7 linked regions of the Homo sapiens genome follow. The protein of the gene in region 3 interacts with the protein of the main gene of each other region in a pairwise test. Each region holds a gene or a part of one and is shown on either strand. Other genes may lie near its edges.

Region 1 (4,372 bases), on a different chromosome or scaffold from region 3:
AACTAATTTGCTATTACTTTTCAGACTTCAGATGAAAAAGCACGTACTTGTTTAGGAGATGTAACTGAAAGCTATGTGGTGTGTGTGACTTCAGACTGCAAAACTTAATACAAGATTTTCAGTTGGACTAATGAAAAGTGCATTCTAGATTTTTTAAATGTGCACAAAAGAGGACAGCAAAGAGATGGGCATGAAATAAAGTTTTATTTTAACTACAGTCACAGAGTGTGATATGCGGGGTATGCAAGGCAGCAGGCAGTGGGTTGGTGGTGGTGCTAGGATTGAGGAAAGACAGGTCACACTTCATCATGAAATGTGTCGTTACTTTAAGATTAAGATTAGGAATTTAGTCCTCCAGAAAATACAGAGTTACTGGTGATAGAAGAGCTATTATATTTACTGGCATTTGAAATAATCCTGCAGGAGAGGAGAAAACAGGTGTAAAATTGTAGAAACAGGAGACAGAGAGACAGCCCAGGAAGATATTGAAAAATTCTGTGAGATATAATAGCACCTGAAATAAAGATTATCTCTGATTCTGACCATAAAGAATGTGATTATATATCATAAAATGCCAACAATTCTACCATATTCTTTTCCCCTAGGACTGGAAAATAAATACAAAGAAGTTCTTTTTTGTTTTCCTATAACAAATATTCAATAAGCATGTTTCATTAACCCTCTAATGTGCAGTTACTAATATATCCAGTATTTGTTCACCAGAGTGTTACCTAGAAGGTCATTCTGGGGTATCCACTTGTACAGCCGAGTATTGAGACCTAAGGCATCTGGTTTATTCCCGTCAAATCTCCACAGAACCTGTTACAGTAAAGAGAATATCTTATTCCATGAGTGGAACTCAAAAATTATAGAATGTTAGAACTGTAGAAAGCATAGGAATGAGATCAAGGGATGTTAGTAAATAAATCTACTCAAAGATTGATGTAAAAAGAATACTCACATTTTATTTTCTTAACTTTTATAATGATTTAGATATATAAGAAACCATGATTTTCCAAAACAGTACCATAGAAAAATAAGACTATCAATGAAAAGTTCAAATATTCAAAAAATTGTTACACTTTTTAAAAGAAGACCTACCTGCAGTCAACCATCATATGAAGAAAAATAACATCACAGATCATTAGAGAAATTCAAATCAAAACCATAATGAGATAGCATCTCACACCAATCAGAATGGCCATTATTAAAAATTCAAAAAATATCATGATGTTGGCGAGGTTGTATAGAAAAGGAATGCTTATACTCTGTTGGTTGGAATGTAAGTTAGTTCAACCATTGTGGAAGACAGTGTGGCCATTCCTCAGAAACCTAGAGGCAAAAATACCATGAAACCCAGCAATCCCATTACTGGGTATATAAGCAAAGGACTATAACTGGTTCTTTTATGAAGATCCATGAAAATATATGTTAGTTGCAGTACTATTCACAATAGCAAGGACATGCAGTCAACCTAAATGACCATCAATTATGGAATGAATAAAGAAAATATGGCATATATACACTACGGAATATTATGCAGCCATAAAAAAAACAAAAATATGTATTTTGCAGGGATAAGGATGGAGCTGGAGGCCGTTAGCCTTAGGAAACTAACATAGGAATTGAAATCCAAATGTGACATGTCCTCACTTATGAGTGGAAGCTAAAAGATGAGAACACGTGGACACATAGATGGCAACAACATACACTGAGATGTATTGGAGGGTGGAGGGTGGGAGGAAAGAGAGGATCAGGAAAAATAATAAACGAATATTAGTCTTAATACCTGAGTGATGACACAATCAGTACAACAAACCCCCATGACACAAGTTTACCTATGTAAAAAACCTGCACATGTACTCCTGAACTTAAAAGTTAAAAATAAAAGTTAAATTAATTTAATTTAAAAAATAAAAATATTACAAAAAAAGTGTAAAAAATTATATGGAGTGATTGTAATTCTAGTGTAATAAAACAGTTACTATTTAGTAATGACCTGTATGTTTGTTTTATGTATTTTATATTAGTTTTCATCTCCAAATTTAATTGTAATGTATTCGTTTATTTTTGAATAATATGAGAAGTAGTTTAAATGTATCTACTTGTCGGTAGGTTATTATATTGGAGCCTGTTGTCCTTTGATTGACAAAATAGCAAGTCTATAAAATAAGCTACTTATAAGAACTAAATAAATGCTGCCAAGATTTTATGTATAACTTCATTGGAATTACAAATTATCAAGCACTATTTCCCAGAAAAATTTCAAGCGACAATTTTTGACACAAATTCAGAATATTACCATTATTGTTAATTTTGGATTTTTTTTTGGCCTAGAAATGAGGAACCTTTTGGTATCATGAATAAAAATAAAGCTAATGAATAAACTCAAAATTGTACTTTGCTAAATTTGGTCAACTGATTATTAACACTTAGATAACGTGCTACAAATCTTTGTCAACAGTGATTAATATGTTCTGCTATAGCCAAGACATTCTTATTTTAAGTTACTAATTTTGAAACTCCAAAGCAATCCTCACAAACTGAACAATAATTTGCAGTGTTTAACTTTTATTTGCTACATCAGTGTTAAAGTAACTCAGGTTTCAGCAAAAAGTTAGAGGTCATTACAAGAAAGCTTTATCAGATAGGAAATTAAAAAGTCATTCACAAATACACAAAGGTCCCTGGTTTACTCTATACAGAAGAAAATATATTCCTACTATGTTCTATGGAGGGGACATCTGAACCTGTTCCCCTGCCTCTCTTCCTTCTGTTTGACTCCTTCCTATATTTCCTTCTGCTGCCTCCATTGGGAGGAGTTGTTAATCTGGTAGTTAGTGCTGAGTCCTTGTGGGACCATATTTTATACTGTACAGGATCCACCTTCAGGTCAGGATCCATCTCCATCCTTTCTCTTTCATCTTCCTGCTTCAGGCAGTGTTCTCTATTTGTTGTCACATATTTCACATAAGCATTTGACTTAAAGTACAAACAGAAATAGTACATTCCTTAATTGTAAACATTCACCAAGAGCTTCCAGAGTACGGTAAGTAATAGAGGTGGCCCAAGAGTAAGTGAAATCTTCTTCACTCATTGGATACTGCTGAGATTAGCAAAACAGCTTTGAAGAAAATGATCATAAGTCTTCCTTGTATTTCTACAAAGATGCAGTTCTGGATATATATTTTTAGTTGAAAACACTTGAAAGTCATTCTAAAGACTACATTAGGCACCATTTTCACTTACCTGAAATATATTCAGTTAATTTCAGCAGTATGTATGACTCTTAATATCAGAAATTAAAAATAACCATGAGTCTCAAGTTCCCTGTTGTGGATACCTACGGAGTACTGAGTTCCCACTGATACTAATAGGAGCCACTCATGAATACCAAGGGTAGTAACTCCCCCAGGGCCACATGTAACCACTAAGTCTGAGGCACAACTATTACTTGTGTTGGTGGAAGCAACATAAGCATATTTAAGGATGTATTTGGATGTAAAGAGTTCACTCTACTCTTAATATTCTTTCTATGTAGATCACAAACATTAACAGCCTCTTTCAGCAGTTTTCCACACCAGTAAGGCCCTTTATCTTACCTTTTGTGGGATCTTGGCAAGGGCTGTTGCAATTACATTGGCCCTTTCTGCTGTCATGTTACTTATCACTGACCCCAGAGAAAACACCACAACACCATTTTCTCCAGAGCTCTGTACAAACTCCTCCATTTCCTGTGAAAAAAAAATTGTTTCATCACAAAAGAGTATCACCACAGCAGGCACTACTGAAAGAATTGGTACCAAATATTAAAGAGAGAAAATCAAGTATTTTGAGGAATTATTGGAATTAATAATATTTTTTAACTGAATCATTCAGTTTCTTTGCAAGAAGATGTTTGAGATAGTTGGCCTCTGTTAAGGATATTTGTGTAAATATGTGTGTATATGTATGTATGTGTCTGCATGTGTGTAATGGAGGAAAGAAATGGAGCTATTACATTGTAGTCAGGGAGATAATGTTAAAAAATATACCCAGACCCTTCACTTATAATACTATAATTACTAATATAAGTTCTTGGAATAGTGGCACCACTCGGCTTTAATCCTATGTTTTTGTTCTACTAAATCACTTGTGTTTATTTCAGGCATGTTTTCTGTAGAATTCTTTTAGTTTGAAGCCATTAGTGGTCTACTTCCCTAAATATGAGCACTGAGGAAAAGATATTCACAGTTGGGATAATTTTATATCTACATTTATGTTCCTCTACAATGCTTTATGCTTCACTTAAAGTTTGTCAGAGTTTTCCAGTAGTTTTTCAAAAAATAAAAAATGAAAATAAAAGCTGGTGGTTAAGAATCACTGACATTCC
Region 2 (4,372 bases), on a different chromosome or scaffold from region 3:
GACCCAATCCCTAAACTTGAAATCCCCCGCCTTCCTGCCATGGAGGGAGAATGGGGCCCAGTGGCCCCTCACCACTCAGGCTTGCCCCACAGTGGGTGGCCTGGTACCCAGCTCTTCCAGGTCAGTGGAGTAGCAGGGGATCCTGGGACCCCCAGGGAAGAATTTCCAGAAAGCTGCAGGCTTGGCCTCCATTACCCCCTCTCCCCCCTGCCCCCCAGCTGGTCCCTCTGGGGTCCTGAGGTGAGGGGCTTTCTAGAAGCATAGGTAGTGGGCAGAGAGTGGCTACGGGGAGGAGACCAGGGGAGCCTGGGGCCGGCCCACTGTGTGGCAAGAAAGCAGAATGGAGAACGGGACGAGGTGGGCTCACACCGGAGATTGGACCCTCCCCTGCAGGGGCACTCGAGCCCCTTCTTGGTGACATCCAGCAGCTGGTGGCCTGCAGACCTGCTCTGTCAGCCACTCACCCAGAGGCAGCCTCGCCTCGCTGGCCTGGGAAGGGCTGGCTGGGGCTCCTGGACTCGGCCCCTAGCCAGACTCAGCCCCTCCCTGAACTCTGTCCCCTCTGCCAGCCCAGATGAATGGCTGTGTGTGTGTGTGTGTGTGTGTGTGTGTGTGTGTGTAGCAATCTGTTCACTTTTTGCAAATCTATTTTTTAAAAGTTTCTTGGAGGCTGCTCCTGGCAGGATGGAGGTTTCTTGGGGGTGGAGGTGGCTGTGGCCATGCACTCCTTTGGACGTGTCCTAGATGACATTCTCAAACAGCTGCATGGAGCTCATGATGTTCTCATCCTGCATGGAGAGAGGAAGGGAGGCCTTCAGGTGCTGGGTGGGCTCCAAATCCGACCCCCTTGAGCAGATTCCCGCCAGGGACTCGGAGCCTGCAGCGACTGCCTGTCTGTCTGTCTTATTGGGTGCAGGGAGCTGGGGGACAGGGAGGTGAAGTAGCTGGTCCGAGGTCCCCAGCTGGTGAGGCACAGCCTGTCTTCAACCCCACTCCTGACTGCAAGCCCATCTGGGATGAGCTGATGAAGGCGATCCCGGCTGGCCTCCAGAGGAGGTGGGCGCTAACCAGGACTGCTCTGGGAGTGGGGCAATAGAGGCGCTGGAGGCCCAGCATCCTGCCCCCTGAGGTGCTCTCTGGAAGGGCCAGCAGCAACACTGCGGAAGCTCTGGTGCCTCCCCACGGTGACCCTCTCCCTCTGGCTGGCCCCATGTCTGCCCCTAACTTGAGGTTCTCCAGGGACTGGGCTGAGGGAGGGTGTGGGGGTAGTGGGGGGATGCTGTGGGCTGCAGGGGTGGGTGGGGAGGAGGAGACTCAGACAAGAGGGCAAGTGGAGCTTGGGGCTGTCCAGGAGGTGGCAAGGGGCCAAGGACAGCTGCCACATCCTGGACTGGCAGGGGTGGGACTGGGGTGAGGGAAGGGGCAGACGCTGCCAACCACCCACCTCCGTGTAGAGCCTGCAGAGAACTGTGGCCCAGCCTCCCGTGCCACCTACCTTCTGACAGGCCTCCAGGAACTCTTCAATGGTCACTACCCCATCCTGGTTCCGGTCCATTTTCTGCAACCCAAGCCATGCCCAAAGTGAGTCTGTGCCCCAGCAGAGACAGCCCCGCCCCTGGCCTGAGGACGCAGAAGTCATGGGTGGGTGGATGGGCGGGTGGGTGGATGGGCGGGTGGGCTCCCTCCACTCTAACTTGTCCCCTGTGACTACTCTGGATCCAGGCCACATAATCCACCCTTCATAGCCACCTCCCAACCAACTGCTGAGGCTCCAAGCATCTCCCCACTGCTCCCCTAGGCCAATTCCCTGAGCCCTCCTGGGCTTGGGTTTCCCAGAATTTGTCCCCATGCTCATCTGACCGCCTCACCTCCCTGAGAGGCAGCCAGGGCAGAGGGAGCAACTGAGTCACAGGATGGCCCATGTCTAGTGGCCCCAGCAAGTAGGAGGCAAAGCCTGCAGCCCCTGCAGCCGCCATGCATACAGGTGAAGGCCCCCAACCTGCTCCTCTCCCAGAGCGTCTTCCTGGAGGAGCCACACAGCTCTCAGGAGGCATGGAGCTCCGGCCCAGGGTCAGCTGCCTCAGGATCCCCAGCTCTGGCCCCCAGATGAGGTCCACAGGGCAGAGCAGTGGTGTAGTTCACTTCTCAGGGGTTCTGACAACCAGCCAGACTGGAGGGGCAAGTTTAACCTCCTCATGGGGAGTAGGGAGGCTCAGAGGGGCAAGCCACTTGCCCGGGGTGGCCCCAAAAGCGAGAGCCCCTTCCTCTGCCAGGCTCCCCTCCCTAGGCAGGGCTGGCGCTCGCTCACCTCGAAGAACCTCTCCACGTGCTCCGCCGGCGCGTCCTCCCGCAGGATGGGGTAGGTGTGGCGGCCCATCATGTCATAGATGGACTTCATGATGGCCAGCATCTCCTGGAGGGGGAGGCTGGCATGAGCCTGCTGCAAGGCCGGGGTGGCTGTGAGGGCCCAAAGGGAGCGGGCGGCATCCAAGGGTGCAGGGCACCTCCAAGGCAGTGAGTGCGAGGGGCCGGACGAGCTGGAGAGAGAAGCCTGTCCGCTTCCAGGGCACCCAGAGCGAGCTTCTGACTCTAGGGGAAGCTCATCTCCCAGAGAAGTGGGAGATGGATTGCTATGTGCTTATCTCCAAAATGTGACGCGGCAGCAGAAAAAGTGCTTGGACCAAACAAAACCTGTCTGTGGGCCCATGTGCGAGGGCTCCCCTCTCCACCCATGCCTTAAGGGACCGCACTGCCCCCTTCACTTGATGGGGGCCAAGGCCAGGACCTCTGGCTTCTCCACTTAAATCTCCCCGAGGCCTTTTGTGTAAGACAGTATGACCGAGAACACTTGCTGAGCTGGACCGAGATGTGTGGTACAGGGTACCTGAACCCACACTCCACACCGGGGTGTCCAGGACCGAGCCCAGGAGAGGAGAGCCCACTGGCTGCTGTCCCTGGGGCCAGTCTCTGGATGGACAGCGGGAGAAGACAGGTGGGCAGCAGGAGCAGGGAGAGGAAGAGCGGCGGGAGGGGTGGAGCAGCAGGAGGGGAGGAGGGGACAATCCCTGCCCCCAGCCCCCTACTACCTCTTTGGTGATGTAGCCATCCTTGTTAATGTCGTAGAGATTAAAGGCCCACTTGAGCTTCTCGTGGACTGTGCCCCGCAGCAGGATGGAGAGGCCAACCACAAAGTCCTATGGGGAAAGGAGAGTGTGGGGCGTGACATCCAATCAATGCCCAGGTTCTAGTTCCAGTTGCTGTGTGGCTTCCACTGAAATTCACGCCTCCAACAGGCACAGAGCCTCCCTAAGAGACTGACGGCATCCATTCAGGTCAGCACAGGGTGAGTGTGTGCCCGTGTGTGAGCGCATGCACGGGTGTGCACCTGTGTGTGTGAACTTGTGTGAGGGTGTGCACCTGTGTGAGAACTTGTGTGAGGGTGTGCACCTGTGTGAGGGTGTGCATCTGTATGTGTGAACCTGTGAGGGTGTGCACCTGTGTGTGCACCTGTGTGAGTGTGTGAACCTGTGTGAGTGCATGCGCATGTGTCTGCATGTGTGGCAGGAGTGGCATGGTAGCTGATACTGATGCCAGAGAAAGATATTCAAATATATATGGTGTCCTAGACCCATTTAATGCAGTGCTGCCGCTGGAGACGCCTGGGGTACTCTTTTAATAAAGGAGGTGCTCTATGTTTATTCTGCCAAGCATCTGCATGGCAAAGGTGCTTGAAAACTTCCAGATTAAATAGCTAGAGGAATGATGCTCAGCTTTTTGTTTGTTGTTGTTTTTAGAGACAGAGTCTCAGACTGTCACCAGTCGCCATCATGGCTCACTGCAGTCCCAAACTCCCAGGCTCAAGCGATCCTCCACCTCAGCCTCCTGAGTAGCTGGGACCACTCGGAATAATCCATGCCTGGCTAATTTATTTTATACTTATAGAGATGGGGTCTCGCTATGTTGTCCAGGCTGGTCTCCAACTCCTGGCCCCAAGTAATCCTCCTACCTTGGGCTTCAGAAGTGCTGGGATTACAGGTGTAATCCCAGGGCCACCTCGCCCAAACCTGGTGCTCAACTCTTGAGTCATGACATGCTGTGTGTGGCCATCGCCTTTGGCATGGGAAACTTTACTACTAATATGACAGAATATGGCTGTTTAAATGGTTTCCATGTGACAACTTCAACTGTTTTGTTACAGCAGTTGGTAGAAAGCAGGTTTTCCCCCTACCTCTTGGAAGGTTTAAAGGTGAAACCCTCCCTGCACCCTGGGGTCCTCCCAGGCTACTCTGAAAGAAAGGGGTGAGAAAGGGGCTGTACCAGCGAAGTGGGACAGAGGACGGTCAGAGTGCAAGGGACAGGGCCATGCACCAAG
Region 3 (4,372 bases):
ATTCAGGTCCTGTATCTGCCATTGATTAGCCATGTGGCTTTAGCACAGTTTTTCAAGTTCTTCATCTTTCAAAGTAGGATACCAGTACCTGCTTCACAGGGAGGATATAACAGCTGCAGAGGGCTTGGCCATGCCTAGAGTCTCATGACCCCTTAGGAAATTTTTCATGATGAGACTCAAAGATAGTGTTCAATGTTAGACTGGTTTCGCTACAGAAAACAGGAATACTTCCACTGAACAACCGCATACGAAAGCTAAATCCTGCTAGTGTAAAAATCATCAGATTTCACTGGATAGAATGAAAGAAGAATAAGGAAAGAGGAATATGATAAAAATAAAAAGAGAAGTAAAATTTGTAGCAGAAATTCAAATTGGTGATTTGCTGAATAGCAGAAAATCTAAAATGAGGAAAAACAGTATTGCAAGCTATGAGGAGAAGATAGAAAACAAATAGCATCAACATAAATAGGCCTGCCTGATTCTCTAACACCTGAGAGCATTGCCTTGCCACGCTAAAGGGAGAGTAACTAAGGAAGGCTTCTTGCAGTCTGGGCTGGGGTTGTGGGGTAGGGGGATTCAGTAGCAGTACAAATGACAATGTTGTTATTACTGTAATAATGGTGATAATGACACCTAAATACTTAGGGCCAGGCATTTTTCTAAGTGTTTTAATCTTCATAACAATGTTACAAATAGATATTATTCCCATTTTATGGGAGGGAAATCTGTGGCACAGGGTAGTTAAGTAATTTGCCCACAGTCACCCAGCTGGTATGGAAGAGCCTGAATCTACAGCCATGCATCCGGACCCCATACTCGTCCTAATCCCTGAGCTGCACTGCAAAGCCAAGTCCTGCCCATTCACTTTCTTTAGAGTATTATACACAGGAGATACTCTGCTGGAAGCCAGGTCAAGTTACATTGGGATGCAATACCCAGTCTTAACCATGTTGCAGTGGAATCATGCAACATGTCCAACCTCTACACAAAAGAAGCAGAGCAGTTCAATATATCATAGAAGTTAATCACAGAAGAGAAAGTGGGCATCTTTGCATAACTTGAAGCCTAATAGGAACATTTGAATGCATAGTATGATTCAGGTAAACCTGTGACCTAGCATATAATTTATTTTTATTTATTTTTAATTTAATTTAATTTATTTATTTATTTATTTTGAGACAGAGTCTCACTGTGTCACCCAGGCTGGAGTGCAGTGGCACCATCTTGGCTAACTGCAACTTCTGCCCCCCAGGTTCAAGCGATTCTCCTGCCTCAGCCTCCCAAGTAGCTGGGACTACAGGCACGTGCCACCATGCATGACTAATTTTTGTATTTTTAGTAGAGATGGGGTTTTACCATGTTGGCCAGGCTGGTCTTGAACTCCTGACCTCAAGTGATCTGCCTGCCTCAGCCTCCCAAAGTGCTGGGATTATAGGCGTGAGCTGCCATGCCTGGCCCTAGCATATAATTTAGATAGGTGGCTAGTCACTCTTTGCTATAGAATATTTGAATAGTCATTTAAAGTTGTTACCTGGAATTCTATGTCAATTCCCAGGAAAAGGCCATAGAGTAGCCTTTTCTTTGACCTGAGGATAATTGAAGAGGCAAATATATTAGTAATAATTATGAATTCATTTATTCATTCATCAAATATTTATTGAGTGCTTCCTTTAGCTAGACATGGCCCTAGGTGACTGGGAATATATAATGGATAAAATATATAAGCTTCCTGTCCTGATGTGTAACATCCTAATGAGAGGAAACCTGTCCCCCACCACATATACTTAGGCAGATTAGCACTTGGCCAGAGGAAGAAAATAGCTGTGGAGTGGACAATGGTGTCTTCAGCGGCCGAAAGGAGGGGCAGGGGAAGCCCCAGCAGCAGGAGCAGGTGTGTGGCAGCCCTTCACAAGGGGCTTTCATGTCTCAGTTGTATGTTGCCAGTGTCACTTTGTTCATTGTCATAGTTGAGGGAGAAGACTTGCAACAAGAAGATGGACCCACAGGAGAACCACAACAAGAGGATGATGAGTTTCTTATGGCGACTGATGTAGATGATAGATTTGAGACCCTGGAACCTGAAGTATCTCATGAAGGTAGAACACTTTTTTTTCAAGTTTTAGGATAAAATATAATCAATGACTTCTAATTACTGAAGTTTTTCTTAAACCCCTTTAAAACTGATATTTAACTTTTGCTTAGATTTTTAAAAGTTGAAGCTTAAAGCTTCAATTAAAGCAAATTTTTTCTTAAAATAGATACCTTGATTTTGGTTCAAAGCACTTTTCAGGGAAACTCAGAATATACAAATTTCTTATAAATAGTGAGTCAAATACTTGAGGAAACTAGTTTTACTATATTCTTCTGCTTAGGGTGCTATTTGTTAAATAAAATTCAAACAACTGATGAAATATTGGACTTGATAATCTATCACAGGCTCATGTTCACACATGAACTCTGTAATTACAGTGAGCAAAACACAATTCTTAGCTTCTGTACCAGGCATTGGCAAACTTTTTTTTGTAAATAGCCAGAGAGTAAATATTTCAGGTTTTCTGGATCGTACAGACTCTGTTCAGCTACTCAACTCTGCCATCACAGCGTAAAAGCAGCCTTTGATAGTTCCTAAGTGGGTCAGTGTAGCTGTGTTTTTATACAACTTATTTGTAAAATCCTACCCAACATGGCTGGTAAGTGCAGCGGCTTGAACACAGCTCACTCCAGCCTTGACCTCCCATGCTCAAGCAGTCCTCTCACCTCAGCCTCTCAAGTAGCTGGAACCACAGGCATATGCTACCATGCCCTGCCAATTTTTAAATTTTTTATAGTGGCAAGGTCTCCTTATGTTGCCCAAGCTGGTCTCAAACTCCTGGCCTCAAGCAATTCTCCTGCCTCAGCTTTCCAAAGTGTTGGGATTGCAGGCATGAGCCATTGTGTGTCCAGTTAGCAAACACTTTTTAAAAGCATAAAAATGAAAAGTAGTTTATCTACTTTGCACAATACTAAATATTTTGGAAAATTACTTTAGCAGCAGGTAGCTCCTACTTTATGAGTACATGTATTTCCAAAAACTTATATCCATGCCTATTGTTTAGAACAGGAAATGCACTTTCCCATAAAAATATGGGATGGTTTGGTTTTCAAAAGAATTGTATATAATGCATAATTTTCTGTGAAAAATACAAGCACACAATCCTTTTGAACATCTATATGATTTATTTTTGCTGCATTACACATTGAAAATAAGCACTTATAGACTACCTTCAGAACTTTATGCCTTTAGTAATCATTTATGTCATGATTTCTTTGGGACAAGGTTTCCAGTTTCTGAGTAGGGATACTGATAAAATGATTTCCACATTTCCTGTTGCTTCTTCTCTCCAGTCTTTGGCCTAAATGGCTCAGTAAGATTGACAGTTGCTCAGAATTTTTCTATCTACATGCTGCTTATACAACAAATTTCAGTTAAGATGCTGAAATAAACAGAAGCATGAGGAATTTGATATTCTTAAAGTTAGGAGTCACAGATTGGGAGTAGGAAGAAACACTTTTAAGAAGTTCACAAATTGCAGAAACCTTACTTTCTGATCTCATCTTTAATTAGGACATAGATGCAGTTTGAACTTAAAAGTTGGTTGTTAAAAGTCTTCAGAAAATAAAAATATTTATTCTTTATATATGCATTAAATAAAATTAGCAAGGTCATAAGTGTGGTGACGGACAGATAGCTCTTCTGCTATCTGGGGTGTATGGGTTAAGTGTTCAACACATTTACCCTTCAGCTCCCTAAGGGTATAAAGCCTCTTCAGCTGTTTTTCTCTGTTCCCATCCATAGTTGCTGTACTTTCGCTCTAGAAAATGGTAGGACAGGTCGAGGAGATAGCACATTCTAGTGGGTTGTGAAGTGGATTAGAAATGAACGGCTTTCCTGGTCTGGCCTGTGTCACTCTAAGTTGTCCTCTCTCTTTAGTCCAGGGGGTGGTGGTTGTCAGCCTTGTGGGGATGAGTGGACTGAGAAGGAGAATGTGTGAGACATCCCACAGTGTACTTCTAGTGAAATATAAAAGTGTTAAGCAGACTTTTAATTGATAGTCCCATTTTTTAATTTTTTAAATAAAATTAATGATAAGCATAGATTCAGAGTACATATACGGGATATATACATACCATTTTGTAAAAGCAGTAAATATCAATCTAATTTTTTTTTTTCCAGAAACCGAGCATAGTTACCACGTGGAAGAGACAGGTGAGATTTTAATTTAATTCTGTTCTTAATTAGAGTGAGTCTTCCTTTAAAAGGGCATCATAAAATACATAATATCTATTATTAATGATATATTTAAATTAATATATGCAAGATATGCAATTAATA
Region 4 (3,929 bases), on a different chromosome or scaffold from region 3:
CCTAGTGCAGCACCTGGCACAAAATAGGGTTTCAGTAAATTGTTTTCCTTCCAAGAATGCTACTGTTAGCTTTTAGTCTTTCAAATGTGATGTCAAATGGGGAAACTAAGACCCACAGTGTTCAACATGAGTAATCATTTGCTGGTTATAGGCTGAAGCCGCTTGATGGTCCTCTAGAGCCTAAAATCTCTCAGCAGGAGGCCCCGTCATCCTCTTTATCTCTGCACTCCCACTCACACCACAGGGGCTCCAGGCTTTCCATATCAGAGGGTCTTAGAAGTGGCAATCTTGTTGGAAGCAAAGTGTTGTGAAGGGTCTTGTCTCGAAGTTGCATTTGCATTTGGTCACAGTATTTGCATTTGGATTGGATGTTTGCTGGGGAAGGCTTGGGGGCTGGGGAGGATGAAGTCATTGCCTGGCACAGGCCTGGCACAACGTAAGTACAGTTGACCCTCCAACAACATGAGTTTAAACTTATTGGGTCCACTTACATGCAGATTGTTTTCAACCAAAAGTGATAGAAAATGCAGTATTTATAGGATGTGAAACCTGCATATATGGAGGCCAAATTTTCTGAAAACACGAGTCCCTCAGGGCTAGCTGTGGGACTTGAGTATCTGCAGATTTTGGTATGGAGAGTCCTGGGACTGATCCTTCACACATATGGAGGGACAACTGCACTAATAATTGGGTGTCAAATGAATGGACTAGCCTTCCCTTTTCACAGCTTACCTCTCTTACCTAACGGAGTCATGAAGAAGTGATTGAGAGTGTAAGAAATAGTTCTGTTTATTGGTTAGAACATGGTATAAAATTACAGCAATTTGCAGGCATTCTGGACTTCTTGGGAGGGACATGCAGCGCTGGGCTCAAGCAGGGGATGTGGTGGAGATATGGACCACTGGGCAATGGCTCCCTTCCTGGACATATTAAAGGACTTGTACTACCAGCACAAATGCCAGTGTGAGAGAATTATTGGTCCTCGTTTCTGGAAACAAATGACATGGGCAGTTTGGGTCATCAGACAATATCATGCTTAATAATTCAGTCCTATCCCACATATGTTAGGTGCTGGCTCTCCCAATCTGGTCATGACAGATCCTAATTGTTCTGGATAACTCTCATTCTTCCCACCAAAGGAAGAGAAACAGGCACATTGGTTTGGGAGGCCATCAGAGATGGTGTGCATCTGGCTCAGGTCCTCTTGCTTCCAGATTCACCAAGGTCTGCCTGACTTGGAGGCAGTGGGCTGGGGGCACGTAAGCAGCATATTTTGTGCACTACTGTTTAAGCTTAAGCAGAGGGACCTTCCATAGGGCAGCAGTGTGAGGAGATGAGCATGCTTCCAAAACAAACTCAAATTTCATCTTGTCTCTCTCAAGAAGAAGAAAGAGGAAGAGTTGGCAATCAGAGACTGAGCCACATGATGCTGGGTTCCATAGAAAGTCTTCAGCAGAGAATTCTTCCAAAGTGTAAAAGGTGTTTCTGTCCCAAGAGTTGGTGTGTAAAATCAGAACAAGGGCAGATCAGGGTGTTAAGGTGGTTGTTTAGTACAATGTCTCTGAGAGCTGAATGGCTGAGTGTCACCAGTTACATGACATTTTGAAACAGCTGGAGAGACCTCATGATGTTGTCGTCCTGGGAAAAAAGGAGGGCAAGAGGGTTAGAACTCTGAGTCTCCTCCCTGAGAGCTCTGTAACTCTGGTGAGCAAATGTCAAGCATGGGTTTCCTATATGGAGAAAACTCTACAAGGGTATGAAAAACAAGAAGTAAGGGTGGGGACCTAGAAAGTGATCAGTTCAAAGTAAGAAGCACCACCTGTAGCCTTAAAGAGGAATTCAGAAGAAACAAATCATCTAGTAAAATAGTGAGTTGCTTCTTTTAAGAAGCTCTGAACAATTACATCCACTGAAATGATTATATTTTTTCTCTTTTTATTCTATTAATGTGATTAATTACACTGACCAATTATTGAATGTTAAACCAACCTTGCATTCCTGGAATACTGCTTTAGATCCTACAAATTTTGATAAGTCATATTTTTATTTTATTTTTATTCGAGATATTTTCTTCTCTGAACCATGAATTAGAAGTGTATTGCTTAATACCGAACATTTGAGGATTTTTCTACATTCAATACTATACCTCAGAGAAGAAATAATAGAAAAATGTAAAATACAGAACATGCAATAGAGACATACAGTAAGAAAACCCCCCAAAGCGCTCTCTTTCAAAAAAATCAATAAAGTAGATAAATGCTTATTAAGACTGCTTTTCAAATTATCAATATCAGAAATGAAAAGGTTAATGTCAGTATAGGCTTATTTGGCTCATTATTCTGGCAGCTGGAAAGTTCAGCTGGGCATCTGCATCTGGTGAGGGTTTCAGGCTGCTTCCACTCACAGTGGAATGTGAAGGGAAGCTGGGTGTGCAGAGATCCCATGGTGGGAGAGGAATCAAGGTTGGAGGTGGGGAAGGTGCCAGGCTGTTTTACAACCAGCTCTCAAGGGAATTAACAGTGAGAACTCACCCCCAAGGGGGTCAGTGTTCATTCCATTCTAGTTGTTAAATATCTTGGATATCACCCTGCACATAGGACATCTACATAACAGGGTGGCTGTGATGTTTATGTATGTGCTTGAAACTTGATGGGGGCTCAGTATCTGCTAGGAACTTCTCCCCGGCTTTCTTACATTTGCTATTCTTCTTGGCTGGAGCTCAGAGTAACTCTGAACATTTCTAAAATAATGTGGGGGTACAAATGGATTTCTCAAAAGTAGATGAAGCAATTATTTCCAGTTCAGTCTCTGGTGGACTCTGGGGCTGGTCTATTGGTTAGACTTAATGAAAGTTGTGTTCCCAGGATCAGCATCACCAGTGTGACTGGGGAGAATGTGAGAAAAGTAACATCTCAGGCCCTACCCCAGACCTATGGAATTAGAATCTGCATTTTAACAAAATCATCAAGGATATTGTTTCACACATTAAAGTGTTAGAAGCATTGGTCCAGGACATTTGTGTTAAAGTGACCCAGATCTAGAGTCTCTGGGATTGAGGCCTGGAAATATGCATTTTCAGAATCATTCCAGGCAATTTTTATGCACACTGTGGTTTGAGAATCACACAATTGTAGGTTTTTTTCCCCCCAGCTGCTTCCTTGTAGTCTGGGAAATGGGTCATCAAGCCAGAGGCAGGCTAAAAAATAATGGTGTTGCCCTCTCGGGAAGTCTATTTTCACAGAGACCCCCTCTGAGTTTTCACATGCCCCCAGACCCCTACTTAGGCTCTCTGTTCAGTCTTGTGCTTAGCCAAGACCAACTGCAGGTCAGGTTGAGGAGTGGAACTGTGGACTTCACAGTTGTTGCTGGTGTTGTTGGCTCTGATGGGAGGGGTTGCAGGTATGTGCAGGTTTCTCATCACCTTCCTTCTGCAGGTCCCCAGGCCCCAGGTTTCCTTTCCCAGATGTAGAGTTATTGTGCCCTGAGATCTCTCCTTACCTCCTGACATGATTCAAGAAATTCATCTAAAGTTACGATGCCATCTTTATTTTTGTCCATTTTCTGAAAGACATAACAGAAAGCACTTTACAGAATCTGGTGATCTCCATTCCAAAGCTTACTCCCCTGCTTTCTTGCTGGAGCTCAGAGTAACGAGCTGGAGCTCATTTCATTCATTTCATTAACCAACTTTGCCCTGAGAATGAGAGTTGTCTTTCACTGGCCAGACAACTCCAATTAGGTCCTGATTACAACACTTTGAGCCCCATGAGCTTCCTTAAATCAAAAGACTTGCTCTGGACACTCATCACCTCACTGCTGGCTTATTCTGCTTCTTCTGTAGACTCCCTGCTACCCTGTCCATCTGGCAGAACACTGGGCAAAAGAGGTTCTGATTCTGGCCTGTTACTTGCTGTACAAACTTGCACAAG
Region 5 (4,372 bases), on a different chromosome or scaffold from region 3:
TCAACCTAGTTAGCTTTTACTACTTACTTATGTGGTAGAGTTACACATTTTTAAATGTCTCCTAACTAGTTAAGAGGGGAGACAGCTGGTTTACTAATTTTAAGCAGGAGTATCGTCAGTGGGACTAAGTAAGACATTAGAATTCAATAAATAGTATTAGACTTGAAACATTCATGATTTTCTCTGAAAGAAGCAGTCTAGGCCCAAAGTTAAAAATATAGTAGTGGGCTGGGCATGATGGTTCACACCTGTAATCCCAGCACTTTGGGAGGCTGAAGAAGGAGAATCACTTGAGGCCAGGAGTTCAAGACTAGCCTGGGCAATGTAGTGAGACTCCATCTCTTAAAAAAAAAAAAAAAATTAGCTGGGTATGGTGGCATGCTGCGGGGATCGCTTGAGCCCAGGGGTTTAAGGGTGCAGTGAGCTATGATCACTTCACTGCACCCTGGCATGGGCAACAGAGAAAGACCCTGTCTCTAAGAAAAATTTAAAAAATTGAAATGTAAGAACAGTCATGAAGCCAGATTGCCCAGGTTTTGCCCCTTACTACTGTGTGATTTTTGGCTGATTAACCTGATTATTATTTTCCCCATCTAAAAGCGAAGATGATGACAATAGTGTCTGCCCCATAAACTATCATGAAGATTACATAAGTTCACATACTTATGTGCTTATAAATAGTACCTGGTACTAAAAGTATAAAATAAATGTTATCTATTATTATCTTTTTTTTTTTTTTGGAGGCAAGGTCTCAGTCTATCTTCCAGGCTGGAGTGCAGTGGCATGATCACAGCTCACTGCAGCCCCAACCTCCTGGGCTCAAGCGATCCTCCTACCTCTCAGCCTCCTGAGTAGCTGGGACCACAGGTATGCACCACCATGCCTGGCTAATTTATTAAATCTTTTGTAGAGACGGGGGTCTCCCTGTGTTGCCCAGGCTGGTCTTGAACTCCTGGGCTCAAGCAATCCTCCCACCTCGGCCTCTCAAAGTGTTGAGATTATAGGCATGAGCCACATGCCCAGCCCAATTATCATTATTATTACAAGATCTTTATTACAAGGCTGAGATACAGACGCTAGCTGGCTGAACTTCTGGCTCCTGTTTACCAACTTTCTAGCCCACTCAATTCAGACCCTTGCTAGCTCTTTTCATCATCCTATGAGGCGTGAATTATTTGCCCTGTTGCAAATTCTTACAGTGCTGTCTGAAAAAGAGATATGCTAGTGTAATCTAGAAACTGGAAGAGCACTGTAGAGACAAATAATTCGGGATTTTAATGACTCTCTTGCAGGGAGAAAGGCAATTGAACAGGATGACTCACAAGGTTTATACTGAAAAAGCTTAGAGCTTTTTCTAAGCGCTTAGATTATTTTTTAGTGACCAGCTCTATAAAAGCAGTGATCAGAGCCCATGCTAGCTAGACCTAAAAAGTAATAGTTGTAACACAGATGTATTTAAACTGTGATAAAAAAATTAGACTATACACATGAAATTGGTTTGAATTACCTCGGCTTTAGAGAGCTGCCTGTCATTGTCCATGTCTATTTGTTTAAATGTCTCAATGCTCCGTGGTCCTTTGGTCACAGCATAAAGTTCAATCTCAAAAATCAATGTAGCATCCGGTGGAATCTTGCCTTCTGCTAAGGGTATAAATTTTAACAGTTTAACTTATGTAAAGATATAGTTCAAATATCTATTCATGAACTGCCATAACCATATTATATTATTTCATGTTGATAAGAATTGCTATCTGAATACTCACAATTTTTAATTTTTTCTCATCTTTTATAACTTTTTTCGGCTTTTCAATAGTTTTCTTTTTTGTTTTTTTTTCTCTTTTTTTTATAAATACTTTTTTAGGAATATTTTTTCCATATGTTTCCAAACCAAGTCAATTCAAAGGACCTATGGGACCACTATTTCTTGATTAATTTAAGTAAAAATCATAAACTTTTTATTAATGCATGGATATGACCCTCTATATCTGTGGGTTCTGCATCTGTGGATTCAACCAGTCTCGGCTTGAAAATATTCATACAAAAAAAGGATAGTTGTGTCTGTAATAAACATGTACAGACTTTTGTCTTGTCATTATTCCCTAACCAATACAATATAACAATCTTTTACATAACATTTACATTGTATTAGATATTATAAGTAATCTAGAGATAATTTAAAGTACACCGGAAGATGTCCAGAGGTTATGTGCAAATGTGATGCCATTTTGTATCAGGGGCTTGAGCTTCTGTGGATTTTGGAATCCATGAGAAGGTCTTGGAACCAATCTCTAACAGGTACTGAGAGACAACTGTACTCTCCTATCATCAACACAGAAGAGAGGTGGCACAGAGAAGAAATGCATGGGCAGAAAAATTGCAAAGCATAGATGAGTCATCTTTTAGAAAGTGATTTTGTGTAGTTATTTGGAAGCATAAATAAAACATAAGTATTAATATATTTGTCTTTCAAATTTTTTATAGACATTAAAAAATAAGTGCAATGATAGAAAAATCCAGTAACAGGCTGGGCACAGTGGCTCACACGTGTAATTCTAGCACTCTGGGAGACCGAGACAGGAGGATCACTTGAGCCCAGGAGTTTGAGACCAAACTGGGCAACATAGTGAGACCCTGTCTCTATTAAAAAAAAAAAGAATTAAAATAAAAATTCAGTAACAATTTTACAAAGAAATTGTATACATTTTTAAGCAATAAGTTGAATACCTATTTTTATTTTTATTTATTTTTTTTGAGACGGCGTCTCACTCTGTTTCCCAGGCTGGAGTGCAGTGGTGCAATCTCCGCTTACTGCAGCCTCTGCCTCTTGGGTTCAAGCCATTCTCCTACCTCAGCCTCCTGAGTACCTGGGATTACAGGTGCACACCAGGCATTGCATTATTAGTAGAGATGGGGTTTCACTATGTTGGCCAGGCTAGTCTTGAACTCCTGACCTCAGGTGATCCGCTTGCCTTGGCCTCCCTAAGTGCTAGGATTACAGATGTGAGCCACTGTGCCTGGCCAGAATTGCTCTCTTTAATTAAGTTAACCTATTAGCTGATGTCACAGATTTTTTTTTTTTTTTTAGACAAGAATCTTCCTCTGTCACCCAGGCTGGAGTGCAATGGCACGATCTCGGCTCACTGTAACCTCTGCCTCCCAGGTTCAAGCAATTCTCCTGCCTCAGCCTCCCGAGCAGCTGGGATTACAGGTGCCTGCCACCAATCCTGGCTAATTTTTTATACTTTATTAATAGAGATGGGGTTTCACCATGTTGGCCAGGCTGGTCTCAAACTCCTGACCTCAAAGGATCCACCCACCTTGGCCTCCCAAAGTGCTGGGATTACAGGCGTGAGTCACCGTGCCAGGCCATGATGTCACAGGTGATTTTAATAAGTGATGGGCTATTTCAGATAAATATGTCATAAAAGTGACTTGCAAAAATGACTTGCTAAGGGGCAGCGGGTAGCTTGTGTCATCAGTATATTGCCAGTGTCCTACACAGTGCCTAATCTACTACAGGCAGTCCAATATTTGCCGAATGAATGACCCATATCATTTATTTTTAAAATGTTTGTCCTTGGAAGGAAACAGCAATTTCTTTAATAAAAAAGTGAAGCATTCTAGCTAAAGTCTTTATATAGTCTGAAGAGAAAAGAGTTTGTGAGTTATAGCCAAAAGGAGTAGCAGATTAGTAGTTTTCAAAGAGAAAACATAGAAAGATCTACCCATGCATCATATGACTAACATAAAAGTCCTAACCTAATGCACCACATATTACCTGACTTTAGAGTAGAAGAGCTAGAGATTGAGTCAATGATTGTTTTATAAAACCCATTCCTATTTTTTCCAGTTATCTCCTTATGACAGAATTATTGTCTCCTGACAATAATTCAAGGCAAACTCAAAACACAAATTCAAATTTCTTTTCTTTTCGTTTTTTTTTTTTTTTGAGACAGAATCTGTTCTGTTGCCCAGGCTGTAGTGCAGTGTCGCGATCTTGGCTCACTGCAACCTCCACCTCCCGAGTTCAAGTGATTCTTGTGTTTCAGCCTCCCAAGTAGCTGGGATTACAGGCACAAGCCACCACACCCAGCTATTTTTTGTATTTTTAGTAGATACGGGGTTTCACTATGTTGGCCAGGCTGGTCTTGAACTCCTAGCCTCAGGTGAGCCACCCACCTCGGCCTCCCAAAGTGCTAGGATTACAGCTATACGCCACTGTGCCCAGCCCAAAACTTGAATTTCTTAAGAAAAAATATTGTAGGTACATATGCAGTTTTTGAACAATTTTGCTATAAACATAGAAAATATTGGCCGGGCGCAGTGGCTTATACCACTTTTTTTTTTTAGACAAGAATCTTCCTCTGTCACC
Region 6 (5,030 bases), on a different chromosome or scaffold from region 3:
TTAGAAATAATTTTTATTTTTTACAGCAAAGAATGCTTTCAATTAGATAACAGATTATTTTGTTGTATTTTCCAGCTTCCCTACAGAAGAACAGTGATTTCACAAGAAGTACAAATGATATGATCATGGCCACAGACTTAGCAATTTTTTTCCAACCAGGAATCACAGACAAGGATTTCACAGAATCAACTGAACCATTATTTGTTCAACTTGCTAAAACCTGAGTCAACAGTTCTTTAAGATCCCAAACTCTGGGATTCTCAGTTTAGGTAAGACCTTTGCAAGAGCTAGTGCTTTCAGAGGTTTTACCAAAAGAGAAATTTCATTATTTAGCTATTTGGGATATGGACTTAGCTTTCTATTATCATAAATACGTGTGTTGAGAAAAGTGTACCTAGGTCATAGGTGAAGGATAACAAGATCCTAGTCAGATAAAATCTTCTGAATTCTGAAGTTATCTTTTCTAGTCTTCTATTCTGATGGTGAGAGGAGAAGCAGCTAATAATTAGTAGCTGTTTTTTTTTGTTTTTGTTTGTTTGTTTGTTTGTTTGTTTTTGTTTTGAGACAGAGTCTCGCTCTGTCGCCCAGGTTGGAGGGCAGTGGCGTGATCTCAGCTCACTGCAAGCTCCACCTCCCGGGTTCATGCCATTCTCCTGCCTCAGCCTCCTGAGTGTCTGGGACTACGGGTGCCCACCACCACGCCTGGCTAATGTTTTGTATTTTTAGTAGAGACAGGGTTTCACCGTGTTAGCCAGGATGATCTCGATCTCCTGACCTCGTGATCCACCTGCCTCGGCCTCCCAAAGTGCTGGGATTACAGGCGTGAGCCACTGCGCCTGGCCTATTAGCTGTTTATTGTACCAAGTGGGACGCATGTTATCACATTAGACCTATGAGGTAGTTACAATCATCAACACTATTTTACAAAGAAGGATGCCTTAAAAACTTGCTTAAGAGTCTAGATCTGGTAAGTAACAGCCAGGCAACAGCAACGGCCAGGATTCAAACTCAGGACATAAGAAATTGCCTACTTAAGTGTGATATCCCATTGTTCTGACATTCATATTGCTTTCAATATTCAAAAAAACCCCTGTGAGATGGGTCTTCCCATTCCAGAGATATGGTTATTGAGGTTCAAAAGGTTTTTTTGTTTACTTGTTTGTTTGTTTGTTTTTTAGAGACACGGTTTCACTGTCACCCAGGCTGGAGTACAGTGGCACTGTCATGGCTCATTGTAACCTTGAACTCCTGGGCTCAAGTATGCCATTGTGCCTGAGTAATTTTTAAATTTTTTGTAGAGATGGAGGTCTCACTATGTTGCCCAGGCTGGTCTTGAACTCCTTGCCTCAAGTGATCCATCTGTGTTGGCCTCCCAAAGTGCTGGGGTTACAGGTGTTAGCCACCAGGCTTTGCCTCAACTCAAAAAGTTTAAAACTTGCCTTATGTCACTCAGTAAGTAGCAAGGCTGAGAGTGAAACTCATTCTTGGCAACTTTCAAAGTCCGTGAGTTTTCCATAATGCCTTCCAAGAGGGCATCTGTTTTTATCATCTCACAGATGCGTTGATGGTATTAAGGAGAGACTGAATAGCTGGCAATACTCATAAAACCGCATTTTCAAAACTTTACTGTGTAACCCTATGTGCTTAGCAAATATTGTAAAAATGAGGTTCTGACCAATGAAATGTCAGGAAAGTTAGTATAAATTGGTCAAGAGAGTGACAGTCACTCCAGAATTTGATTTGACTATATTTACCATATCAGATTCACATTCAGTCCTCAGCAAAATGAAGGGCTCCATTTTCACTCTGTTTTTATTCTCTGTCCTATTTGCCATCTCAGAAGTGCGGAGCAAGGAGTCTGTGAGACTCTGTGGGCTAGAATACATACGGACAGTCATCTATATCTGTGCTAGCTCCAGGTGGAGAAGGCATCAGGAGGGGATCCCTCAAGCTCAGCAAGGTAACAGTAACTCATGTGTCTCCTCTATTTTCCTTTCACATGTCTCTTTTATTTTTTCAAGCTGTGTTTTAAACCATTATTTTATTAAGTGTTTCTCTAAGTACTGTTGAGGCATTTTTTATGTCAATTTAAGGGATTAATTATCAAAATATACTGAATTTGGCTTGGGAAAGTGATGAGCATGCTACCTTTCAAAAAATAACTACCTCATTTTTTAGTCCCCTGCTTGAAATCATTTAATCGCATGACTACTTCAATGGGCTCAGCATCTGTGGAAGGTACTTTGGAGGCTATGGCGAAGCATGTGATTTCAAGGAGCGTGTTGAAGTAGCAAGACTTTCACTCATGAATAATTGTACAATATAATAAGTTAGAATTCCGGCAGTTGTTAAATATGGATGCAAGGAAAGAAGCTGACCTTAATTGAGCACTTTTAAGTGCTGGGAAGTTACATGTGCAACATTTCATTCAGCTTTCTGATAAGGATCCTGGGAAGCAAGCAAAATTACCACCATTTATCATTTTACCAAGAAGAAAATTCTTCTCCCAGCTGGTGAAAATGTGGTTAGGTAGGAAACTGGGTCTATCTGGCTTCAAGAGCCAAGGTCTTTACTAATTCCATACTGAGTCTCGGGTGGGAAAGAGAATGTTACAAAATGTCACCTATTACAAAATGTCACCTATTTTGTAATAGGTGACAGCATCATGGAGGTGGTGGTTACTGACAGAGGCCCTGAAGGATTTGGGGATTATGGAAGGTGGTGGGGAAGCAGGGTGGGAATTCTAGTAGTAGGAATTGTCTGATCAGGATTTTGAAGGAAGAAATGAACCAAATGTCTTTCAGAAACGGTGAAGCGGCTGACTTCACTATATTTCTTTATTATTCAATTCAACTAACTTAAAAATTTGACTGAAATTCTTTCTGTTAATTCCATATTAAAGTATGAGGTAGAATTTATTTAAAATCCTATTTTTAGATTTTTATTTATTTATTTATTTATTTGATTGGAGACAGGGTCTTGCCCTCTCACCCAGGCTGGCACAATCATAGCTCACTGAAGCCTCAAACCCCTGCACTCAAGTGATCCTCACACCTCAGCCTCTTGAGTAGGTAGGACTACAGGTGTGTGCCACCACATCTGGCTAATTTTTAAATATTTTGTAGAGGTGGGGTCTTGCAATGTTGCCCAGGCTGGTCTCAAACTCCTGGCTTCAAGCAATCTTCCGTCTCGGCCTCCCAGAGCACTGGGATTACAGGCATAAGCCACTGGGCATGGCTGAAAATCCTATTTAAAAAATTATTTTTTTAATTGGTAAAAATTATATACATTTATTGTGTACAACATATTGTTTTGAAATAGGTATACATACAATATACATGTGGAATAGCTAAATCAAGCTAATTAACATATGCATTACCTCACATACTTATGTTTTTGTGATGAGGACACTTGAAATCTACTCTTTTAGCAATTTCAGGAATACAATGCATTTTTATTAACTATAGTCACCATGTTGTACAATAGACTTCTTGAAATTATTCCTTCTAATGGAAATTCTGTACTCTTGACCATCTCTTCCCCAACCATCCCCCTCACCCTCACCCTCTGATAACCATCGTTCTCCGCTATACATTTTTGAGTTTGACGTTTTTAGATTCCACATATCAGTGAGATCATGTGGTGTTTGTCTTTCTGTGCCTTGCTTAAGAGTGTATTTTAATAATTGGTTGTATTTGCTATGTTTTATACTAAAAAGTTAAAAAGGAAAAATGTGATTACATAATAAATGTTGCGACTATATGTATGATTGTTAAGGTTTCAGTTTAATTTAAAATGATGTTGGTAATAAAAACCTTTTAGAAAATGACCTAAACTGTTCATCTTTGGGTGGGCTAATGTGTTGAAAAAGCATGTATTTTCCATTTTCAGTACCACTTTAATATTGAAGTTCATATGACTAGTTGCTAACAAAAATTATATGGGTTTTTAATCTTAAGAGAGTAAGCATAATTTACCAGGATTTACAACAATCTCTGTAATAGCAAACCAAAATGCACTATAAAAATACATTTGGGATATCTCTGAAACACATAGGGGAGTGGAATGGATATCTATAAGGCTAGCTCTGTTGGACATCACTGAAATCATACTACTTATTATTCAATCTTTCTCAGATTTTCAGTGTTTTCCCACACATTATTTATCTGATCAATTACTGGTTTACCAACCAGCATCTGTTCACCTAGTTTTTCATGGTGCCTGCTGGTGTGCTAAGGCATTGATAAGTCAATTTGAACTAAATTAAAGTGAGAGAAGCTTATATATGAACTTTGGAAACAACACTTAGGCAAAAACTGTGAATTTCACTTTTTATTTTCAGATATAGAGGTTTAAATCTCCATTTCCTTCTTTACTGATCGAGATTGCAGGGCATACACAGGGTTTTTTTTTGTTTATGTGTTTTTTGTTTATAGCACATAACTAATATTGGAAGCTGCTGGTCATCCAGCAGAGGTAGCGAGTAAAAGAAGTCAAGTCCCGACTAGCTGAGCAACACTGACTGTCACTCCTCATCTTTGCACTCAAGTTTCTGCCTCTGTAAAATGAGGACAGTGGAGATGACTGTGCTCTCCCCAAAATGTCTAATCTCTCTGAAACCAGGCCAACATTTTAAAAAATTATGTGTATGATTCTATTTCATTTTAGGGATCCAGTTCATTTCCCCAGGAGTGGAATGTGGTTGCTGCCTTCTTTGTAGGAGCTGTCTAAGGATGTATTATTTTTTTCTCTTCCATACAGCTGAGACAGGAAACTCCTTCCAGCTCCCACATAAACGTGAGTTTTCTGAGGAAAATCCAGCGCAAAACCTTCCGAAGGTGGATGCCTCAGGGGAAGACCGTCTTTGGGGTGGACAGATGCCCACTGAAGAGCTTTGGAAGTCAAAGAAGCATTCAGTGATGTCAAGACAAGATTTACAAACTTTGTGTTGCACTGATGGCTGTTCCATGACTGATTTGAGTGCTCTTTGCTAAGACAAGAGCAAATACCCAATGGGTGGCAGAGCTTTA
Region 7 (5,004 bases), on a different chromosome or scaffold from region 3:
CCGGCTGATTTTTGTATTTTTAGTAGAGATGGGGTTTCACTATGTTAGCCAAGCTGGTCACAAACTCCTGACCTCAAGTGATCCGCCCACCTCGGCCTCCCAAAGTGCTGGGATTACAGGCATGAGCCACCGCGACAGGTCGCCTGCCTTCTTTTCGAAACTTCTGGGATGATCTTTTTATCTCTGCTCAAAAGACTCAGTCTCTGTCACGTTAAGAGATATTCCCACAGGCCTTCCTTCACACAGCACCATCCCTGCACACACCTCCTGCCCTTGCCTTTCTACCTGCCCGCCCATCTCTCCTCTCCTGCCTTGCTCCTGGCCCTCCCACCTGGCCAACACGTCTGTTCTCAGCACTGACCACCTCCATGAGTACCACGCAACTCACCCATCTGTTTAAGGTTGTTGTAGTCTTTTTCATTCCCATCTCCCTAAAATATCAGCTCCACGAGGGCAGGGGTTTTGTCTGTTTTGTGTTTTTGTTCATCTCAGTAACAGACTTACCTTCATAATTACATTTGACTCAGCTTAATATGGAGATAAATTTATGTCCCCTGGACATGCAATAACAGGTGGTGTCTCAGATGCTCTTGACGGTAGAATTTGGGTTTAAAATTCATGTCTAATCCACGATTATGATCAAGCTTTATCTTTTAAAACCCATGGGTGGCGCTGGTGATGAGACAGAGGTGTGGAAGAAAAAGACAATTGCAAGTAATTGCTATTCTTTATTTTGCCACTCAAAATAATTACCAAAAAAAAAAAATCTTAAATGATAACAACACAACATCAAGGCAAAGAGAACAGGAATGGCTGACTCTGCATAAATTGGCCGAAGATTATCCATTATCTTAAGGTTTGACTTCAGGTTACAGCACACAGACAAACATGCCCAGGAGGCTCTCAGGACCGCTCGATGTCTTCTGAGGAGGCTGCGGCGGGGAGATCCAGGAGGCGGTCGAGGGCACCGGCCTCTGCAAAGGGAAGAGCCACATCTGAGCAGCAACTTCTTAATATGCACATGAGAGAATTACAACCACGACACATGCTACAGGAAGCGGCGTGTGGTCGTCCTCTGTAAAGATTCTTACCAGATTAAACCCAGAATCAGGGACAACACTCTGTATTCCTCACTTCGTAATGATTTAACTCCCACAGTTAGTAAGCATTTAAAACTGTCAGACTTTTAAATTCAGGCTTTAAAGAGGTATAATTCCTAGCTGAGTAATGAGAGCTGGTATATCCTAAGGAAAGAGTTTCCATGTTACAAAATTAAAAACAAATGAAAAACAAAAATCTAGCAGAGTCCCTCTGCCCCTTGTAGGAAAAGTCACCCCAGCTTTTCTCCCAGAGGCTCCACTGGGCTCCAACAGAGGGAACTTGGTGACTCGGTTTTGAGATTTCTAATGAACACCGCCTTTTCCAAGACCTTCTCTGGCAGTCTCCTTCCCCCGCTCCCCTCCCCTCACTCCTCTTCCCTCTCCCCATCGCCACCTAAAGTGCAGCCCGATAACACTGCAAATGAAAAACATCCTGATCCAAAATGAACCCAAGGATTAGCCTTGATTTTTCAAAACTGGACAAAACTGTGATGTGCAACTGAAGGTCTCCACTGGAGAGGCTAACGGTCCATCCCTCCTCCCCACCACCAGCTCCCTGTTAACTCTCAGAGCAGCAGGTGAAGGTCTTCTCCACTGGAGAGGCTAAGTGGTCCATCCCTCCTCCCCTCCACCACCTCCCCCTTAACTCTCAGAGCACCAGGTGAAGGTCTTCTCTGCTGGAGAGGCAAAGCGGTCTATCCCTCCTCCCCACCACTGCCTCCCCCTTAACTCTCAGAGCACCAGGTGAAGGTCTTCTCTGCTGGAGAGGCAAAGCGGTCCATCCCTCCTCCCCACCACCACCTCCCTGTTAACCCTCAGAGCACCGGGGCCGCTTTCCGGCTCCCTCCACTGCTGCAGTAGGACCTGTGTGGTTATCTGATCAAGGCCAGATGCCCATCGTAGAATGAATGCCAAGCGTAGTGTGCGGAGGTCTCCTCATCCCCAGTGTTTGCAGAAGACACTGGAAGCCAGGATCAGAGCCTTTCCAGTTAGATTTCAAGGCAGCCTGCCTGGCAGGAAGGCTGCATAGAGAAACACTGCAGTCTAAGATATGGGCTTCTATTAATTTCCCATGCTTAGAAAATATGGTTTAGGGCCAGGCACAGTGGCTCACGCCTGTAATCCCAGCACTTTGGGAGACTGAGGCAGACAGGTCACTTGAGGCCAGGAGTTCAAGATGAGCCTGGCCAACATGATGAACCCCAGCCTCTACTAAAAATACAAAAATTAGCCAGGCATAATTGTGCGCACCTGTTTTCCCAGCTACCTGGGAAGAAGAGGCACGAGAATCACTTGAGCCCAGGAGGCAGAGGCTGCAGTGAGCTGAGATTGCACCACTACATTCGAGCCTGGGCGACAGAGTGAGATGAAGGAAGGAAGGAAGAAAGAGAGAGAGAAAGAGGGAGGAAGAAAAAGGAAGGAAGGAAGAGAAAGAAGAAAGAAAGAAAAGAGAGAAGAGAAAGAAAAGACAGAGAAAAAAGAAAAGAGAAAAGGTTTAGGACGGTTCACAAAGAACTTGGCCTGTAGTATACCTCTGCCCTAAAAGGTACAGCAGTTGTCACCGTGTGAATAGATATGGTTCCAGTAGAATGAGCTGCACCCTGAGGCCCACTCTCTTCCTGGGACCAGCGCTGGCCCGATGGCCCTCCACGACGGTAGAATGCCCCTGCCGCAATCCCAGCCCTCTGGAGCTAGCTCTAGTGTTACATTCTCTGTTATCCCGACACACAGCCAAACAGGACTTTGTACGTAGATAAGTAATCGGCTACTTCCCAGGGGGATTCTATGGGTTCTCTTCTCGATGGGCCTTTTACGTTTCCAGTGTACTAAGAGATGAATGTTAAGTTGATGATATTTCACATACCTTTGAGATGCAAGAAAGACAGAAACTCAATGATTGTGCGCATGATATTGTTTTCAGGTATGGACCTGTCAAAGCTTCCTAGAAGAGAAAAGATCAACATTCACGACTTGTGCAGAGGGTGCTTCAGTGTCTCAGGTCATCCCCCTCCCTACAGAGGAGCTGGGCGCTGCAAGGTCAATGATCTGATCCCAGCAGCCTGAGGCCCTGCTGTGCTTTCCAAGGCCCTTGTTCAATGTGAGGGAGTTGGGGAGATATCCAGTTCGAGGCCTCGCTTTTCTTCTTCTTCTTCTTTTTAATTGAGATGGAGTCTCACTCTGTTGCCTAGGCTGGAATGCAGTGTCATGATCTTGGCTCACTGCAACCTCCGCCTCCCAGGTTCAAGTGATTCTCGAGCCTCTGCCTCCCAAGTAGCTGGGATGACAGGCACCCACCACCACGCCTGGCTAATTTTTATATTTTTGGTAGAGACAGGGTTTTGCCATGTTGGCCAGGCTGGTCTTGAACTCCAGACCTCAGGTGATCCACCCGCATCAGCCTCCCAGAGTGCTGGGATTACAGGCAGGAGCCATCGTGCCCAGTCCCGCTCTTCTGGAGGCCCTGGTGCCTGGGCAGCCTCCCAGCCTAGAAGGACCCCTTGCTGTCTCGGGTTTGCACGTTCTGTTTGCAGCTGCTGACAGGTGTGGCGAGGCCACATCGTCTTAGTCAAGTCATGGCCAGGCTTGGGCTGCAGCTGTGGACAGCCCCGACACCCACAGCTGTCCCCTGCATGCACCTGGGAGCTGGTGGAAGTGAGGTGCCCCGGGGCCCGGGATAGGAGTCCTCTCACCTGGTTTCATGTCATCTTCGGGCCGCAGCTCCCGCTTGCTGGTGAGGCCATTCTTGTCGCTGAATGACCTGTGGTTGCCAACGGCATCTGTTTGCAGATCAGAGAGGAAAGCCTCTGGGTGTGACTGTCATGCACGCCCTCCCCACACCCAAAGAAGGACACAGGGCTGCCTGTAGCCAACACACACACGCAACTCGACTGTGAAATAGAGCCCAGGGACAGACACCAGAGCAGAGGGAGCGATTCTCCACCCAGCTGAGGTAAGAGCTTGGCCGCTCACACCAGGGTCAAAGGGAATGTGAGGGTTTGCACAGGGTGGGTGGGAGAAAGGGAGGTGTGGCTCCTGAAGTGGGGGAGAGGCCCAGAACCTGCCCTGTTGCAGGGGTTGCGCCTGGGTCCAGAGGAGCTGGCATCTGAGCTGGCACTGAGCTGGCATCAAACTGGGTGACTCCCTGGCAGACAACAGGAGCTGGGTCCTCATGTCCCTGAAAGCATGGGGGACGCTGAAGAGTTTAAGTTGTGACTGAATCTGATTTTTATTTTCACTCTGGCAGCTGTGTGCAAGATGGACTGGAGCCAGAGAGAGAGAAGGAGAGAGACAGAGGGAGCGAGAGGGTCACAGAGGGAGACAGGATGGGGGTGGGGGGTGCAGGAGCGTGTGTGCGTTCCCGTGTGTGTGTGGGTGTGTTTCGTGGTGCGAAAATGGAGGAACTGTGATTGCAAGCACAGAGATCCCAGAATTCCAGGGAAGAAACGATGAAGGCTGTAAACCAAGAGGCGTGGGGTGAAGAGGAGGGCTGGATTTGGGGCTGTGCAGGAAAGGAAATGGAAATGAGAGATGGGGACGAGGGTGAGGACGCCTCTGTGTTTCCAGCTGGTTGGCCTGGGTGGACTGTGCCATCTACAAGGCCAGACAAAGGAGAATTAACGCGTATTTCCAGAGATGCCGTTCTTGGTGCTAAATTTATAGAGGAATCATAGGTCGCCTCATGTCACTGATGCACCCTCAGCCACGGCCACACTGCGTTCAGCAGCAGCTGGTGCAAAAACATTGCTTTTGCTGCATTTCTAGCAGATCCTAGAAATCAAAGGCACATTTTTAAGTATTTTGACAAACAACTCGTCTAGCTACAGCTGAACAGGGCCGTAAAATTGATGGCGAAAATGAGTTTGTTTTCTAATTAGGGGTCAAACTCTTCTTGACAAATAGATTT

Evidence for each region.
Region 1: the proteins of ASPH (region 3) and UGT2B11 interact in binary tests that used the Homo sapiens proteins (3 or more experiments, as listed by UniProt).
Region 2: the proteins of ASPH (region 3) and KCNIP3 interact in binary tests that used the Homo sapiens proteins (3 or more experiments, as listed by UniProt).
Region 4: the proteins of ASPH (region 3) and KCNIP1 interact in binary tests that used the Homo sapiens proteins (3 or more experiments, as listed by UniProt).
Region 5: the proteins of ASPH (region 3) and FKBP7 interact in binary tests that used the Homo sapiens proteins (3 or more experiments, as listed by UniProt).
Region 6: the proteins of ASPH (region 3) and INSL5 interact in binary tests that used the Homo sapiens proteins (3 or more experiments, as listed by UniProt).
Region 7: the proteins of ASPH (region 3) and GAL interact in binary tests that used the Homo sapiens proteins (3 or more experiments, as listed by UniProt).

The regions. Positions count from the first base shown.
Region 1 is NC_000004.12:69,204,749-69,209,120, forward strand, and holds part of UGT2B11 (UDP-glucuronosyltransferase 2B11 precursor), read right to left. Parts: intron 3,735-4,372; coding exon 3,603-3,734; intron 820-3,602; coding exon 732-819; intron 1-731. UniProt on the Homo sapiens protein: UDPGT is of major importance in the conjugation and subsequent elimination of potentially toxic xenobiotics and endogenous compounds.
Region 2 is NC_000002.12:95,380,418-95,384,789, reverse strand, and holds part of KCNIP3 (calsenilin), read right to left. Parts: intron 3,195-4,372; coding exon 3,087-3,194; intron 2,414-3,086; coding exon 2,309-2,413; intron 1,559-2,308; coding exon 1,496-1,558; intron 789-1,495; coding exon 741-788; 3' UTR 1-740. UniProt on the Homo sapiens protein: Calcium-dependent transcriptional repressor that binds to the DRE element of genes including PDYN and FOS. Affinity for DNA is reduced upon binding to calcium and enhanced by binding to magnesium. Seems to be involved in nociception.
Region 3 is NC_000008.11:61,644,474-61,648,845, reverse strand, and holds part of ASPH (aspartyl/asparaginyl beta-hydroxylase), read left to right. Parts: intron 1-1,967; coding exon 1,968-2,096; intron 2,097-4,213; coding exon 4,214-4,246; intron 4,247-4,372.
Region 4 is NC_000005.10:170,733,468-170,737,396, reverse strand, and holds the end of KCNIP1 (A-type potassium channel modulatory protein KCNIP1), read right to left. Parts: intron 3,562-3,929; coding exon 3,499-3,561; intron 1,639-3,498; coding exon 1,591-1,638; 3' UTR 765-1,590; downstream 1-764. UniProt on the Homo sapiens protein: Regulatory subunit of Kv4/D (Shal)-type voltage-gated rapidly inactivating A-type potassium channels. Regulates channel density, inactivation kinetics and rate of recovery from inactivation in a calcium-dependent and isoform-specific manner.
Region 5 is NC_000002.12:178,468,145-178,472,516, forward strand, and holds part of FKBP7 (peptidyl-prolyl cis-trans isomerase FKBP7 isoform a precursor), read right to left. Parts: intron 3,381-4,372; exon of another isoform or gene 3,293-3,380; intron 1,642-3,292; coding exon 1,508-1,641; intron 1-1,507. UniProt on the Homo sapiens protein: PPIases accelerate the folding of proteins during protein synthesis.
Region 6 is NC_000001.11:66,797,977-66,803,006, reverse strand, and holds the start of INSL5 (insulin-like peptide INSL5 precursor), read left to right. Parts: upstream 1-1,730; 5' UTR 1,731-1,785; coding exon 1,786-1,960; intron 1,961-4,761; coding exon 4,762-4,994; 3' UTR 4,995-5,030.
Region 7 is NC_000011.10:68,686,887-68,691,890, reverse strand, and holds the end of GAL (galanin peptides preproprotein), read right to left. Parts: intron 4,051-5,004; exon of another isoform or gene 3,888-4,050; intron 3,878-3,887; coding exon 3,791-3,877; intron 3,100-3,790; exon of another isoform or gene 3,043-3,099; coding exon 2,965-3,042; intron 975-2,964; coding exon 904-974; 3' UTR 716-903; downstream 1-715. UniProt on the Homo sapiens protein: Endocrine hormone of the central and peripheral nervous systems that binds and activates the G protein-coupled receptors GALR1, GALR2, and GALR3.